Regions from separate parts of the Homo sapiens genome. Here region 2 is linked to region 1. Evidence: fine-mapped expression QTL. Tissue or cell type: whole blood. Region 1 holds a variant in brackets; the other region holds the start of a gene. All regions are shown on one strand. Distances are between the middles of the regions.

Region 1 (8,246 bases):
CCAAGACCTGAGTATAGATCCCTGCAGCACTTCACTTTGGCTGTAGATGAACTGCCTCTCAGCAAGGGCATGGGAGCAGAGGGAGATTTTTGGCCATGGTAGCAATTCTTGAGCACCTGCTGGGCATTTCAGTCCTTTTCCCTCCCTAGCAGTCAGATAAAGAGACAGGGAAAATCTTGTGTGTGACCTCCAGCTTTCTCCTCTTCCCCACAGCAAGGCCGTGCAGAACAAAGTAGAGGGGATCCTGGTAAGTGTGTTGGGGAAGAGGGCAAGAGAGGGATGGAAATGCTGAGGGAGGAGGATGTGAGGATGATGGGCATCAACAAAACATTGATGTGGGAGAGGTAGGGTCCTCTGCCTTGTCAGAAGATAGTTGGCTTTGCAAACTTGCTGCCAGTTTGACTTTGTGCCTCTCACTTGATCTCTGTGAGCACTTGCATAGAAGCCCAGCAGAGATGAAGTCAGAGCTGATCCCCTCTACTTCCCTCCTCTCCATGGTAGCCTATAGGGCTCCTCAGAGCACCTAGCATCAAATAATTTCTTTCTTTTTTTTTTTTTTTTTTGAGATGGAGTCTCACTCTGTCGCCTAGGCTGGAGTGCAGTGGCGCAATCTCGGCTCACTGCAAGCTCCGCCTCCCAGGTTCACGCCATTCTCCTGCCTCAGCCTCCCAAGTAGCTGGGACTACAGGCGCCCGTCACCACACCCAGCTAATTTTTTTTTGTATTTTTAGTAGAAACGGGGTTTCACCATGTTAGCCAGGATGGTCTCGATCTCCTGACCTTGTGATCAGCCTGCCTTGGCCTTCCAAAGTGCTGGGATTGTAGGCGTGAGCCACCGTGCCCGGCCTTGTCAAATAATTTCTAAGGTCCTTTTTCAGTCTGACACCCTGTAAGTCAGCTAGACTTTGGTGTGGGGATCAGAGGGTCCTATATTGGGTCCTTCTTGGCCTTATTATTTCTCCTGCCTCTGTTCTCTCCTACCTCAGCAAGATGTACAGAAATTTTCTGACAATGACAAGCTGTATCTCTACCTTCAGCTCCCCTCAGGACCCACCACTGGAGACAAAAGGTAGGTTTGATAGTAGTTTTAGATGGCAGAGGTTCTGATTCTTAGAGAAAGGTTCACTGGGAAGGGGTGAGGTGAATAGGAATACTCGTAAATGCTGTCCTTGATGAAGAGGAAAGGTCCTCGCCCTGACTTGGTTTACCAGGGAAAGTTAGATTCTGGGTGAACTAAATTTGGTCCAGCACTACTGAAGTGGTAGTTTGGGAAGAACCAGGACAACTGTTAGGGTCTTAGTAATGCTTGTTCCTTTTGTTTCTGTAGCTCAGAGCCAAGTACACTGAGCAATGAGGAGTACATGTATGCCTATAGGTGGATCCGCAACCACCTGGAAGAGCACACTGACACCTGTCTGCCAAAGCAAAGTGTTTATGATGCCTATCGGTGGGTGGAGGGGTGGGTGGTGGGATGAGTGGATTGGTGGGCATAGGACCCCCTCACCCATGAAGAGCTTCCTGCCTTGATAAAGCCTGCCTTCTTAAAGGGTTCCTCACACTTGATCCCTAGGGACTCTTCGAGCCTACCCATGGCCTCCTTCTCTGAGTATCTTCCCACTCTGCTCCCCTCTCACTCAGGAAGTACTGTGAGAGTCTTGCCTGTTGCCGCCCACTCAGCACAGCCAACTTTGGCAAGATCATCAGAGAGATCTTCCCTGACATCAAAGCTCGAAGGCTTGGTGGCCGGGGCCAGTCCAAGTATCCTTGACTAGAGAGGTTGGGGGTGGAGGACCTGGGAGGAAGACTTAGGATGTGGAGAGCAAGGAGTGGAACAGCTTAACTTGCTCGAGGGGCTTGGAGATCGCCATGTGTTGGCTGCTCTTTAACTTGCATCAGATATTGCTACAGTGGCATAAGGAGGAAGACCTTGGTGTCTATGCCACCCCTGCCTGGACTTGACCTAAAGGGTTCTGAGAGTGTAAGTACCAAATCACCTTCCAATTCCACTCTTCTCTCCCAGGTAAAAGTCAGAGGTCTTTGGGGCATGTTTTGAGGGCTAACAGCCTCAGTCATTATGTACATAGCTTCTAGGTATGATGTTCCCTTCTGCCAACCCTGTAGCTGAGGCAGAGGATGAAGAGAACTTGTGGGCTTCTGCAATGGGATAGGTAGAGGCTACTCCCATCCCCAGTCTGGTCTCAGCTTTGGTCAATAGTCTTTGATCTCTGACAAGAGAGGAGGCAAGGGTTCTTTAATTTGGAGTGTGATTGGGCATGTCCTTCCCCACTTCAGCCAGAAATGGGCCCAGAAGTAACCCCAGCACCTCGAGATGAACTGGTGGAGGCAGCGTGTGCCCTGACCTGTGACTGGGCAGAGCGGATCCTGAAACGGTCCTTCAGTTCCATCGTTGAGGTCGCCCGCTTCCTGCTACAGCAGCATCTCATCTCTGCCCGATCTGCACATGCCCATGTGCTTAAGGCCATGGGGCTCGCTGGTGTGTTGACCCTCTCTTATGTCTCAGCAACCCTGAGCCACTTTCAGCTTCAGTGGCCCTCCCACACACTAGAATAGAGACACCTTGGATTTGCCCCCTCTTCCTGGAGACCCTTCTAAGACATGCTTTAGCACCCCATTTCCTGTCTCTACCAGTCAGTCAATCAGAATTGCCTCACTCCCCTATTCCTCAGTTTCCTCCTCACCTTCACTCTATTACCTTTTTGGTACCTCTGCAGAAGAGGACGAACATGCACCTCGGGAACGGTCATCTAAACCAAAGAATGGTTTAGAGAACCCAGAGGGTGGAGCCCACAAGAAGCCAGAGAGACTGGCCCAGGTAAGGAAGTCAGTGGCCCTGACTTTGCTGTCCTGGGCTGGGGGCTTAGTATATCCTTCTCCAATTGGGTCCCTTGCTTTTCCACCTCCTGTGCCTCTGGCGTCTATGTTTCCCCCAATACTCATTCTTCACACCTTACTGTGTTCCTCTCTTTACTTTTTAGCCTCCTAAGGATCTGGAAGCCCGAACTGGGGCCGGTCCTCTCGCACGTGGAGAGCGGAAGAAGAGTGTAGTTGAGAGCTCGGCCCCAGGAGCCAATAACCTGCAGGTTAATGCCCTAGTGGCTCGGCTGCCTCTGCTCCTTCCCCGGGCCCCTCGCTCACTAATTCCGCCAATCCCAGTCTCTCCACCTATTCTGGCCCCCAGGCTTTCTTCAGGTGCCCTGAAAGTGGCTACACTGCCTCTGTCTAGTAGGGCCGGGGCACCCCCAGCAGCTGTGCCCATCATTAACATGATCTTACCAACTGTTCCTGCTTTGCCTGGACCTGGACCTGGGCCTGGGCGAGCTCCACCTGGGGGACTCACTCAGCCCCGGGGCACAGAGAACAGAGAGGTAGGCATAGGTGGTGACCAAGGACCACATGACAAGGGTGTCAAGAGGACAGCTGAAGTACCTGTGAGTGAGGCCAGTGGGCAGGCTCCACCAGCTAAAGCAGCAAAGCAGGATATAGAGGATACAGCAAGTGATGCCAAAAGGAAACGGGGGCGCCCTCGAAAAAAGTCAGGTGGAAGTGGGGAAAGGAATTCTACCCCTCTCAAGTCAGCAGCTGCCATGGAATCTGCCCAGTCCTCAAGGTTACCATGGGAGACATGGGGCTCAGGAGGGGAAGGCAACTCAGCTGGAGGGGCAGAGAGGCCAGGGCCAATGGGAGAGGCTGAAAAGGGGGCAGTACTTGCCCAGGGTCAGGGAGATGGTACTGTTTCCAAAGGAGGAAGGGGCCCCGGTTCCCAGCATACCAAAGAAGCAGAAGATAAAATTCCCTTGGTCCCCTCAAAAGTGAGTGTCATCAAGGGCAGCAGAAGCCAAAAGGAGGCTTTTCCTTTGGCAAAGGGAGAGGTAGACACTGCACCACAGGGTAATAAAGACTTAAAGGAGCATGTGCTTCAAAGTTCCTTATCCCAGGAGCATAAAGACCCAAAAGCAACACCCCCATGATACAGGTCTGTGGGGAAGAGTGTTTATATCCCTACGTTAACTTTGCCTAGTAGAGGCCCTTCTTTGCACTTGCTTCTCATTTGGCTATTCTTTTCCTAAGGAAGTCCATTCTCCTCTGTACAGACAGCTGAGTCACCCAGTCTACTTAGTACCTGGTTGCTGCCTCTGACCTTTTCAGCTTGATACCCTGGGCTTTAGTGTAACCAATAAATCTGTAGTGACCTTACCTGTATTCCCTGTGCTATCCTGTGGGAAGGTAGGAATGGGCTAAGTATGATGAAT[A/G]TATAGGTTAGGGATCTTTTGGTTTTAAATCACAGAAAACCTAATTCAAACTGGCTTAAAATAAAAAGGATTTATTGGTTCATGTAACTAGAAAGTCCATAGGTAGTGCTGGCTCCAGGTGAAGACTTGACCCAGTAGTTCAGTATGTCTCTAAATACCGGACTGACTTTTTTCTCACTGTTGCATCTTCTGTAGGACCATTTAAGTCTGGGCCACTTAATGGCTGCCAGCATTCCTAAGATTACACTTTTCCCCATTTATGTCCAATCAGAAAAAGAAGGCATCTTTGTACCAGAAATCTCAGCAAAAGCCCTAATATTCACACTGATTAGGCCTGGGTCACATGTCCACCCTGACCAATCACTGTGGCCAGGAGGATGATACATGCTAATTTGCTTATTCTATATCATGGACAACACCTTTGGGGAAAAGGGTGGGGGTCAGCCTCCCCAAAATCACATGGATTCCCCAAGTGGAAACTAGGAGCAGGGAGTTGCTTGGGTGGCCGCTAACACCAGGCTACTCTTATTTTAGCTTGCTAAGTTGAGATCAGCTAGACCTGCTTTCTTTTCTCCTCAGTCTTGCATTTCCCTCAATACAAGCTGTAGCCTCTTTCCTCGTTTCTAGTCTCAGAAGGAAGGAGAGGGAAGCCATTCTCCTCTAGGGACTCTTCAGTCTCATTTAGATGATAGTCCCTTTTTTTCTACCTCCATATTAGAGATGGAGCTCCTTCCTTTTCCTGTTTCTTAATTTTTGTCTTCTCATTCCTGCTTCCCTCTCACCCTATTGCCAGTTCCACCAACTAGAGTGAAAGACTTCCTAGCCATTTCATTAAATCTATTCTGTATCCACCAGGTGGCAGCATCTTGTCATACGTGTCAGGACTTAGGACTGCGGGGTTTAGGTTAGATGTCACGGAAAAAGCTAGTTCTGTGGTCAGGCGGCACCAATGAGAAAGGAATGCAGACCCTCCAGATGTATCCTTGGGAAAAGCAGTAAACCAACTAATATTTATTGAAGACCTACTTTGTCCTCTACATAGGGTAGCTTCTGTCAGGGAATCTTGGTTCTTCCCAAGAAACACTGATTTTCTTTCAGGGAGACTTCATGTGTTCATTTATTTCCACCACAGCAGATTTTAAGAAATTATAATATGTAATATTTGATATCTATAAAGAGTATATCTAACGTGAATAAATTATGAAGCATACTAATGAGTACCTATGACCCATAACACATATACATTAAAACATTTTAAATACCATTGTGTTTGTGTTCCTCCCTAGCCTGTCCCCCGCCTCTTCTTAGCGGTAACCACTGTCCTTAATTTTCGTGTCTATTATCTGCTATAGATATTTTTTAACCATATATGTATATATAATTTTAAAAATGTGTTTAATTTTGCTTGTTTTTTAGCTTTACAGAAAATGTTATACTTTTTTTTTTTTTTTTTGAGACACAGTCTCACTCTATTGTGAAGGCTGTAGTGCAGTGGTGTGATCTCAGCTCACTGCAACCTCCACTTCCTGGGCTCAAGCAATCCTCCCACCTCACCCTCCCTAGTAGCTGGGACTACAGGTGCCTGCCACCATGCCTGAAGTTTTGTATTTTTAGTAGAGATGGGGTTTCACCATGTTGCCCAGGCTGGTCTTGAACTCCTGGGCTCAAGCCATCTGCCCACCTTGGGCTCCCAAAGCGCTGGGATTACAGGCATGAGCCACCTGTGCCCAGCTATGTTATACTCTAATAGTCCCCTGCAGTTTGCTTTTTCTCACTTACCATTGTTTCTAAGATTCATCCATGCTGTTGTAGATAGCTATGATTCATTCATTTTCATCTGCATAATATTTTATCAAGTTCATAAACCACAAGTTATTTATCCATTCACCTATCAATGGATCTTTGGATATTTTCAGTATTTTGCTATTTCAAACTGCTGCTATGAACATTCTTGTACATGTTAGTGCCTTTGTTTTCAGTAAGATTTCTAAAGAGGCTTCTACCATGGTCCTTTGGTTTATATAACCTCTAAGTTGGGAACTGTTCCCTCTTGTCTTATTCTCTGGAAGAGTTTATATCAGATTGAAACAAACTGTTCCTTGAAAGTTTGGTAAAACTCACCTGTAAAGCTATCTGAGATTGATGTTTCTTTGTGGGAATAATTTTAACTATTGATTCCATTTCTTTAATAATTATAGACTGGGCTTTCTATTCTTCTTGAGTCAGCTTAGGTAAAGTATTATTCTAGGGTTTTGTGCATTTCATGTATTTTTTTTAACACAAAATGCATATATTTCTTCTAGTTTCTTTTTTTTTTTTTTTCTTTGAGACAGAGTCTCGCTCTGTCTCCCAGGCTGGAGTGCAGTGGCGTGATCTCGGCTCACTGCAAGCTCTGCCTCCTGGGTTTTACGCCATTCTCCTGCCTCAGCCTCCCGAGTAGCTGGGACTACAGGCATGCACCACGTACACCTGGCTAATTTTTTTTTGTATTTTTAGTAGAGATGGGGTTTCACCGTGTCAGCCAGGATGGTCTCGAACTCCTGACCTTGTGATCCGCCCGCCTCAGCCTTCCAAAGTGCTGGGATTACAGGCGTGAGCCACCGTGCCCGGCTCTTCTTTTTTTTTTTTTTTTTTTTTTGAGACAGAGTCCCGCTCTGTCGCCCAGGCTGGAGGGCAGTGGCGCAGTCTTGGCTCACTGTAACCTCTGCCTTCCGGGTTCAAGCGATTCTCCTGCCTCAGCCTCCGGAGTAGCTGGGATTACAGGTGTGTGCTACCACGGCCAGCTAATTCTTGTATTTTCAGTAGAGAGGTGGTTTCACCATGTTGGTCAGGCTGGTCTCAAACTCCTGATCTCAAGTGATCAGCCTGCCTTTGCCTCTCAAAGTGCTTGGATTACAGGCGTGAGCCACTGCTCCTGGCCTTGTTTCTTTTTTATCTCTGCTCTGTGGATAGGCATATCTTCCTTTTCATTTCTGTTGTTTACTTGTGCCTCCTTTTTTGGTCTTGATCAGTTGCACCAGCAATTTATTTTACCTATATATCTTCAGATGCTACTTTGAGCTTTGTTGATCCTCTCCCTTATGTATTTGTTTTCCATTTCATTAATTATGGATCTTATCTATAGCTATCTTTTTTATGCTTTCTTTAGGTTTAATTTTATGTTCCTTTACAACATATTCATTTTGACACTTAGCCAATTAATTTTCAGGCTATCTTCTTCACTATTTTAAGTTTTTAATAACCTGTTTCTCTACATCCCACAAGTTTTTCTGTGCTGTATTTTTATTACTTAGTTCTAAAAATATTTAAATTACCTTTATGACTTTTTGACTCATGAACTATTTAGAAACATTTTATAAACTTCCAAATATCTGGAGATTTAAAATTGTATTTTTTTTTTGAGACAGAGTCTCACTCTGTCGCCTGGGCTGAAGTGCAGTGGCGTGATCTTGGCTCACTGCAAGCCTACCTCCCGGGTTCAGGCCATTCTCCTGCCTCAGCCTCCGGAGCAGCTGGGACTACAGGTGCCCGCCACCACACCCAGCTAATTTTTTGTGTTTTTTAGTAGAGACAGGGTTTCACCGTGTTAGCCAGGGTAGTCTCGATCTCCTGACCTTGTGATCCGCCCGCCTCAGCCTCCCAAAGTGCTGGGATTACAGGCATGAGCCACCGCACCTGGCCCAAATTGTATCTTTTTGATACTGATTTTTAGCTTAATCATTTGTGTTCAGAGAATGTAGTGTCTATGACACCAATTCTTTGAAATGTGTTGGGATTGTTATTTTATATTCTGTAACATCTTGGATGTCTAAATCCATTTTGTTGTTTTCTGCTGAGTCCTGTCCATGGTAGCTTGTTTACTTGTATACTTTATATTTTGGGTTTTTTTGTTTTTTGTTTTGAGATGGCGTCTTGCTCTGTCACCCATGTTGGAGCGCAGTGGTGCAGTCTCAGCCCACTGCAACCTCTGCCTCC
Region 2 (8,000 bases), 87 kb after region 1:
CACCATGCCAGCTAATTTTTGTATTTTTAGTAGAGACGGGGTTTCACTATGTTGGCCAGGTTGGTCTTGAGCTCCTGACCTCTGATGATCCGCCCACCTCAACCTCTCAAAGTGCTGGGATTACAGGTGTAAGCCACCGCACCTGGCCATTTCACATATTTTTTTGAGACAGGATCTTGCTCTGTCACCCAGGCTGGAGGCCAGTGGTGAAATCATAGCTCACTGTAACCTCAAACTCCTGGGCTTAACCCCTTCTCCTGCCTCAGCCTCCTAAGTAGCTGGGATTACCGCCAAAACCTTTATTTTAAAAGAGAATACAGGCTGGGTGTGATGGTTCATGCCTGTAATCCCAGCACTTAGGGAGTCCAAGGAGGGAGGCTCTCTTGAGCCCAAGAGTTCGAGACCAGCCTAATCAATATGACAAAACCCCATCTCTACAAAAAATACAAAAAATAGCTGGGCATGGTGGTAAGTGCCTGTAGTCCCAGCTATTCAGGAGGCTGAGGCAGGAGGATCACTTGAGCCCCGGAGGTCGAGGCTGCAGTGAGCCAAGATCACACTACTGCACTCCAGCCTGGGTGACAGAATGAGACCCTGTCTCCCCCAAAAAAAAAAAAAAAAAAAAAAACACTCGAAAAGGGTAATACAATGGCACATGTGCAAGGCAGTCACATCAACAGCAGGTTCCCCATGATGCACTACATGGGGCCAAGAACTATGTGCATACTGCCACAAAAAGAATAAAATACCTTGGCTGGGTGTTGTGGCTCATGCCTGTAATCTCAGCACTTTGGGAGGCTGAGGCTGGTGGATCACCTGAGGTCAAGTGTTCGAGACCAGCCTGACCAATATGATGAAACCTCATCTCTACTAAAAATACAGAAAAAAATTACCCGGGCATGGTGGCACGCACCTGTAATCCCAGCTACTCGGGAGGCTGAGACAGGAGAATCATTTGAACCCGGGAGGTGGAGGTTGCAGTGAGCCGAGATGGCGCCACTGCACTCCAGCCTGGGCAACAAAAGCGAGACTCCATCTCAAAAAAACAAACAAATAGACAAACAAACCTAGGAATACAACTAACCAGGGAGATGAAAGAGCTCTACAATGAGAATTACAAAATACCGCTCAAATAAATCAAAGAAGATATAAACAAGTGGAAAAACATCTCATGCTCATGAATAGGAAGAATCAATATCATTAAAATGGCCATACTGCCGAGCATGGTGGCTCACACCTGTAATTCCAGCACTTTGGGAGGCTGAGGTGGGCAGATCACTTGAGGCCAGGAGTTCAAGACCAGCCTGGCCACATGGCCAAACCCCATCTTTACTAAAAATACAAAAAAAAAAAAAAAAAAAAAAGAAAGCCAGGTATGGTGGCGGGTGCCTGGAATCCCAGCTACTCAGAAGGCTGAGGCACAATAATCACTTGAACCTGAGAGGCGGAGGTTGCAATGAGCCGAGATCACACCACTGCACTCCAGCCTGGGAGACAGAGCAAGACTCTGTCTCATAAATTAATTAATTAATTAATTAAAATTGGCCATTCTTCCCACAGCAATTTACAGATTCAATGCTACTCCTATCAAACTACCAAAAACATTCTTCAAAGAACTAGAAAAAACTATTTGAAAATTCATATGGAACCAACAAAGAGCCAGAAAAGCCAAGGCAATCCTAAGCTAAAAGAACAAAGCTGGAGGCAACTTTACCCAACTTCAAACTATTACTTAGGGCTACAATAACCAAAACCGCATGGCACTGGTACAAAAACAGGCACAGAGACCAATGGGACAGAATAGAGAGTCTAGAAATAAAGCCGCACACCTATGACCATCTATTCTTTGACAAAGCTGACAAAACAAGCAGTGAGGAAAAAGAGTCCCTATTCAATAACTGGGGATACTGGCTAGGCTAGCCATATGCAGAAGATTGAAGCTGGACTCCTTTCTTATACCATACACAAAAATTAACTGAAGATGGATTAAAGACAAGGTAAAACCCAAAACTATAAAAATCCTGGAAGACCGGCCGGGCACAGTGGCTCACGCCTATAATGCCAGCACTTTGGGAGGCTGAGGCGGGCGGATCACCTGAGGGTGGGAGTTCGAGACCAGCCTGACCAACATGGAGAAACCTGGTCTCTACTAAAAACACAAAATTAGCTGGGCGTGGTGGCGCATGCCTGTAATCCCAGCTACTAAGGAGGCTGAGGCAGGAGAATCGCTTGAACACGGGAGGCGGAGGTTGCGGTGAGCCGAAGGTTGCGGGGAGCTGAGATTGTGTCATTGCACTCCAGCCTGGGCAATAAGAGCGAAAAAAAAAAAAAGTGGGCAAAGGAGCCGGGCACAGTGGCTCAACGCCTGTAATCCCTGCACTTTGGGAGGCTGAGGCGGGTGGATCACCTGAGCTCAGCAGTTTGAGACTAGCCTGGCCAACATGATGAAACCCCGTCTCTACCAAAAATACAAAAAAGCTGGGCGTGGTGGCGGGCACCTGTAATCCCAGTTACTCAGGAGGCTGAGGCAGGAGAATCACTTGAACCAGGGAGGCGGAGGTTGCAGTGAGCTGAGATGGCGCCACTGTACTCCAACCTGGGCAACAAGAGCAAAACTCCTTCTCAAAGAGAAAAAAAAAAAAAAAAGTGGGCAAAGGACATGAACAGACATCAGACACTTTATTTTTATTTATTTATTTATTTATTTATTTATTTTATTATTATTTTTTTTTTTTTGAGAGGGAGTCTCACTCTGTCGCCCAGGCTAGAGTGCAGTGGCGCCATCTCGGCTCACTGCAACCTCCACCTCCGGGGTTCAAACGATTCTCCCACCTCAGCCTCTGGAGTAGCTGGGACTACAGGCGTCCACCACCACGCCTGGCTAATTTTTGTATTTTTAGTAGAGATGGGGTTTCACCATGTTGGCCAGGCTGGTCAGTAACTCCTGACCTCAGGTGATACACCCACTTCAGCCTTCCAAAGTGCTGGGATTACAGGCCTGAGCCACGCCCCAGCCAGACACTTTTCAAAAGACGATATACATACAGCCAACAAGCCTATTAAAAAAACCTCAATATCACTGATCATTAGAGAAATGCAAATAAATCAAAACCACAACGAGATACCACCTAACACCAGTCAGAATGGCTATTACTAAAAACTAAAAAAATAACAGATGCTGGCAAGGTTGCGAGAAAAGAGAACACTGTTCTATCGTTGGTGCAAGTGTAAATTAGTTCAATCACTGGGAATCACTTGAACCAGGGAGGCGGAGGCTGCAGTGAGCCAGACTGGGCCACTGCACTCCAGTCCGGGAGACAGAGCGAGACCGTCTCAAAAAAAAATTATTCATCGTTTATCTGAAACTCAAATTTCACTGGGCATCCTGTATGTTATCTGGCAATGCTATGCTCCCCCGAGAAAATAAAAAGAAGAAATCTCATAGGTGCCTGTTTCACCCAATCGGTGATTTGTGTTCGTCAACTATTCTGTATTACATTCAGTGATTACACTTAGAAGGAACTCTTGAAACCCTGCAAAAATTTATGTCCTCCTCTTCTAATGTGACTCGTAATAGGTACTCAGCCCAAGCCTGAAACTGACAAAGAGAGCTACCTCACCGGATAAAGCCTTTGTGTCAGACAGCCGTGGGTTTAAATCTTGACTCCACCACTTAACTAGCTGTATGATTTTGGACAAATCACTTAAAATCGCTGAGACTCGGTATCCTGAACCGTAAAATGGAGAGATAATTTACCTTAAGGTGTGGTTGTGAGGTATAAGTGAGATAAACAAAATGACTGATACATAAAAAGCAATCTGTAAATGGTACCTTTGAAGATGATACAGGGAAAGGTAATGAAGTTAGAGACGAGGGAATGGGGAGAGGAAGGGATTAATAATCTATTTTCCTAATAGACGTTATTTTGCAAAGAAAGGAGGGCAGAAAACTATTACGATGAGTCCGAAAAGCAGAACTGTAGCTAAAGACAGACCCGGGCTGCTCTAGAGAAGACGGCGCTAGAACAGAGAAAGGAAGCAGGAATGACCAGTCAATGACCGTCCCCCTGGGGGTAACAGTGGTAACCCGGGACTATCCGCCACTCCAGGGCCCCGGGATGACTCAGGGAGTCCAGCGGGCTCCTTACCTCCGGGGCCAGGGCCGCCTCTCGCCCATGAGCCCCTGGCCCCCACCCCAGGCCCTCCCTGCCTTGGCGCTACACGCGCCCGGAACCCAGCTCTGCCCCTCCTGCCCCGAAGTAGCTCCTCACCACACCATAGTGCTTTCCAACACCATCTTGCCACCTTCCTCCCTCCCGACCGGGTCTCCGGGACGGCCTAACAACAACTCCTCCAATTGGCCCGTCGCTCTTCACCAATCACAGACCTCGGCTTGGCCAGCTGCTTCCGCCTCCGTCCCCCACGTTGCGTTCTGGGAGTTGTAGGTGCCGCCAAACAAATTTGTAGGCGTCTTGAGGGTAGTTGAAGGGAATCGCGGTAACACAAAAAACAGGATCTAGCCTCCACTTTCCCTGCCATTGCAGTTCTCAGTTGGGGTTTCCCGCTGGCCGGATCTCAGGGGAGCTATGGAGGAACCTTTGAAAGTGCTGTGTCGATTCCGGCTTCGGCATTTTAAAAAAGTGTCGGGATCGGCCGAGCGCGGTGGCTCACGCCTGTTAGCCCAGCACTTTGGGAGGCCAAGGCGGGCGGATCACGAGGTCAGGAGTTCGAGACCAGCCTGGCCAGCATGGTGAAACCCTGTCTCTACTAAAAATACAAAAAATTAGCCGGGCATGGTGGCGCACGCCTGTAATCCCCGCTACTCGGGAGGCTGAGGCAGGAGAATTACTTGAACCCGGGAGGCAGAGATTGCAGTGAGCCGAGATCGCGCCACTGCACTCCAGCCTGGGGGACAGAGTGAGACTCCGTCTCAAAAAAAGAAAAAAAAAAGTGTCGGGATCGCTAATGACTTTCTACAGCCCTCAGTTCCCTGTAGAATTTTAATTCAACAAGCCCTTATACCCTTCAATTGAATTTATTTGTATATTTATCTCCTCCCTCGTTTAACTAAGGGTGGGCAACGTGCCTTTTTTTTTTTTTTTTTTTTTTTTTTTTTTTTTTTTTTTGAGACGGAGGAGTCTCGCTCTTTCACCCAGGCTAGAGTGCAGTGGCTCGATCTCGGCTCACTGCAACCTCCACCTCCTGGGTTCCAGGGATTCTCCTGCCTCAGCCTCCCAGGTAGCTGGGACTACAGGGGCATTCCACCATGCCCGGCTAATTTTGTATTTTTAGTAGAGACGAGGTTTCACCATGTTGGCCAGGCTGGTCTCGATTTCCTGACCTCAGATGATCCACCCACCTCAGCTTCCCAAAGTGCTGGGATTACAGGCGTGAGCCACCACACCTGGCCGGCAACGTGTCTTAATCTTTACAATTCCCTAAGCCCAGTACAGAGCCCGGAAAAGATTTGACAACTCAATTATATTAACTAATCTGCCAAAGAACAAACCACTAAACCGTTTTGGTTAATCAAAAATTACATTCAAGGCCTGATGCAATGGCTTAGGTTTTATAATCCCAGCGTTTTGGGAGGCCCAGGCAGGAGGATCAACTCAGGCTAGGAGTCTGAGACCAGCCTGGACAACACAGCCAGACTCCGTCTCTACAAAGTTTTATTGTTTGAGACAGGGTGTCGCTCTGTTGCCCAGATTGGAGTGCAGTGGCCTGATCTCGGCTCACTGCAATCTCCACCTCCCGGGTTCAAGCCATCCTCCTGCCTCAGCCTCCTGAGTAGCTGGGGCTATAGGTGCATGCCACCAAGCCCAGCTAATTTGTTTTTAATTTTTTGATGTGGGAGGATGGCTTGAGCGCATGAGTTCGAGACCAGCGTAGGCAACATAGCCAGACCCCATCTCTGAAAAAAAAAAAGTCTCAAAGTGTTGGGATTACAGGCGTGAGCCATCACATCAGCTGGATATTTGATATTAAGCAATTTTTTTAGGCATGATAATAGTGTTAAAGTTATCACCCTTATAAAAGTAGGCTTTATTAAGGGTTATATGTTGTATTCATAGATAAAAAAAGTATATGAAGTTTGGGATTTAACTTAATCCTCTGGAAGAAACAAATAGTTTTGTTTTTTGAGACAGGGTCTCAAAGTAAAACAAAAGAGACAAGGTCTCACTGGGCTGGAGTGCAGCAGTGGTGCAATCATACATAGCTCACTGCAACCTCTAACTCCTGGCCTCCCATCTCAGCCTCCGAAAACTGGGATTACAGGCTTGAGCCACTGCACCCGGCCACGCTGGTCTTATTTATGTTGATAATTATTGAGGCTGGGTTATGTGTACATAGTGGTTCACCATACTACTCTACTTTTGGTTTGGAAATTCCCATAATGAAAAAAAGAAGGCCAGCTGGGCACGGTGGCTCACGCCTGTAATCCCAGCACTGAGAGGCCGAGGTGGGCAGATCACTTGAGGTTGGGAGTCCGAGACCAGCCTGGATACCCCCGTCGCTACAAAAAAATACAAAAATTAGCTGATTGTGATGGTGCCAGCCTGTAGTCCCAGCTACTTGAGAGACTGAGGTAGGAAAGTCGCCTGAGCCCAGAAAGTCAAGGCTAGAGTGAGCTGAGATTGCTCTGGGTAACAGAGCAAGACTAAAAAAGAAAACCAAGGCTGGGAAATCTCAGCACTTTGGGAGGCCGAGGCGGACGGATCATAAGTTCAGGAGATCGAGAACATCTTGGCCAACATGGTGAAATCCCATCCTACTAAAGATACAAAAATTAGCCGGGCATTGTGGTGGGTGCCTATAGTCCCAGCTACTCTGGAGGCTGAGGCAGGAGAATCACTTGAATCCGGGAGGAAAAGGTTGCAGTGAGCCGAGATCGTGCTATTGTACTCCAACCTGCGCGACAAGAGTGAAACTCCGTCTCAAAAAAAGAAAAACAAAACTAATAAAGAATGAGACTTCATCTCTGAATACATCTCAGAATAGCTGAGATTGACATGCTTAAGGGTAAAATATCAGACCAGATGACGATTTCCAACTTTATTATCCTATGATTTTAATTTCTCTTTTAGTTAGAAGTTTTACACTAATAGACCCTACTTGTATCTGAATATAAATTAGAGCATATAGCTAGAGAATAAGCACTAGTCGCTGCTCACCGCTAGAGGGACCCTCTGATCATAAGAGGATTATCTACACCACCCATTCAGTAGTTTTGAGTACACTCTGAGTGACAAGGTCAGGGATGCAGAACATTTATGCCTAAAACATGTTAACCTCCAATTCCTATTAGGGAAAAAAGTTTTCTCCTTATCCAGACAAAAGGAGGACTGGCTGGGGCTGTGGGAAAATCAAATTCAAAACTTTGAGAATCTGGGCCGAATGCAGTGGCTCACGCCTGTAATCCCAGCACTTTGGGAGGCCGAGGTGAGCGGATCACTTGAGGCTAGGAGTTTGAGACCAGCCTGGCCAACATGGTGAAATCTGTCTCAAAAAAAAAAAAAAAAAAAAGAAAGAAAGAAAGAAAAAGAAAAGAAAAATGAAAAGAAACTTTGAGAATCCCCCATTCCTCTTCCAATCCAAGTACTTGCTTTTTCTTTCTTCTTTTTTTTTTTTTTTTTTTTTTTGAGATGGAGTGTCACTCTGTTGCCAGGGTGGAGTGCAATGAATGGTGCAATCTCAGCTCACTGCAACCTCTGCCTCCTGGGTTCAAGCGATTCTCCTGTCTCAGCCTCCCGAGTAGCTGGGATTACAGGCGCCCGCCACCATGCCCGGTTAATTTTTTTTTTTTTTTTTTTTTTTTGAGAAGGAGTTTCACTCTTGCTGCCCAGGCTGGAGTGCAAGGGCTCGATCTTGGCTCACCGCAACCTCTGCCTCTCAGGTTCAAGCGATTGTCTTGCCTCAGCATCCCAAGTAGCTGGGATTACAGGCGTGCACCCACCACGCCCAGCTAATTTTTTGTATTTTTAGTAAAGATGGGTTTT

What was found. PIP is the estimated chance that this variant, and not a neighbour inherited with it, causes the effect.
Region 2: PSMD4 starts here. The variant in region 1 is fine-mapped to the expression of PSMD4 in whole blood (INTERVAL, PIP 0.97).

What each region holds. Positions count from the first base shown.
Region 1 is chr1:151,337,929-151,346,174 of GRCh38, reverse strand. RFX5 (regulatory factor X5) reads left to right here. Exons shown (of 11, transcript NM_001025603.2): 4 at 214-247; 5 at 987-1,069; 6 at 1,328-1,447; 7 at 1,639-1,758; 8 at 1,897-1,978; 9 at 2,293-2,494; 10 at 2,733-2,833; 11 at 2,997-5,535. The coding sequence ends at 3,989. Among named protein-coding and RNA genes, the nearest start is that of RFX5-AS1, 5.0 kb to the left of the region's middle. RefSeq lists enhancers at 1-90, 2,756-3,256. The variant A/G (reference allele first, on the strand shown) is at 4,272.
Region 2 is chr1:151,251,080-151,259,079 of GRCh38, reverse strand. It overlaps PSMD4 (proteasome 26S subunit ubiquitin receptor, non-ATPase 4), which reads right to left and starts at 4,346. Exons shown (of 10, transcript NM_002810.4): 1 at 4,272-4,346. The coding sequence starts at 4,297. RefSeq lists a silencer at 4,085-4,224 and an enhancer at 4,265-4,454.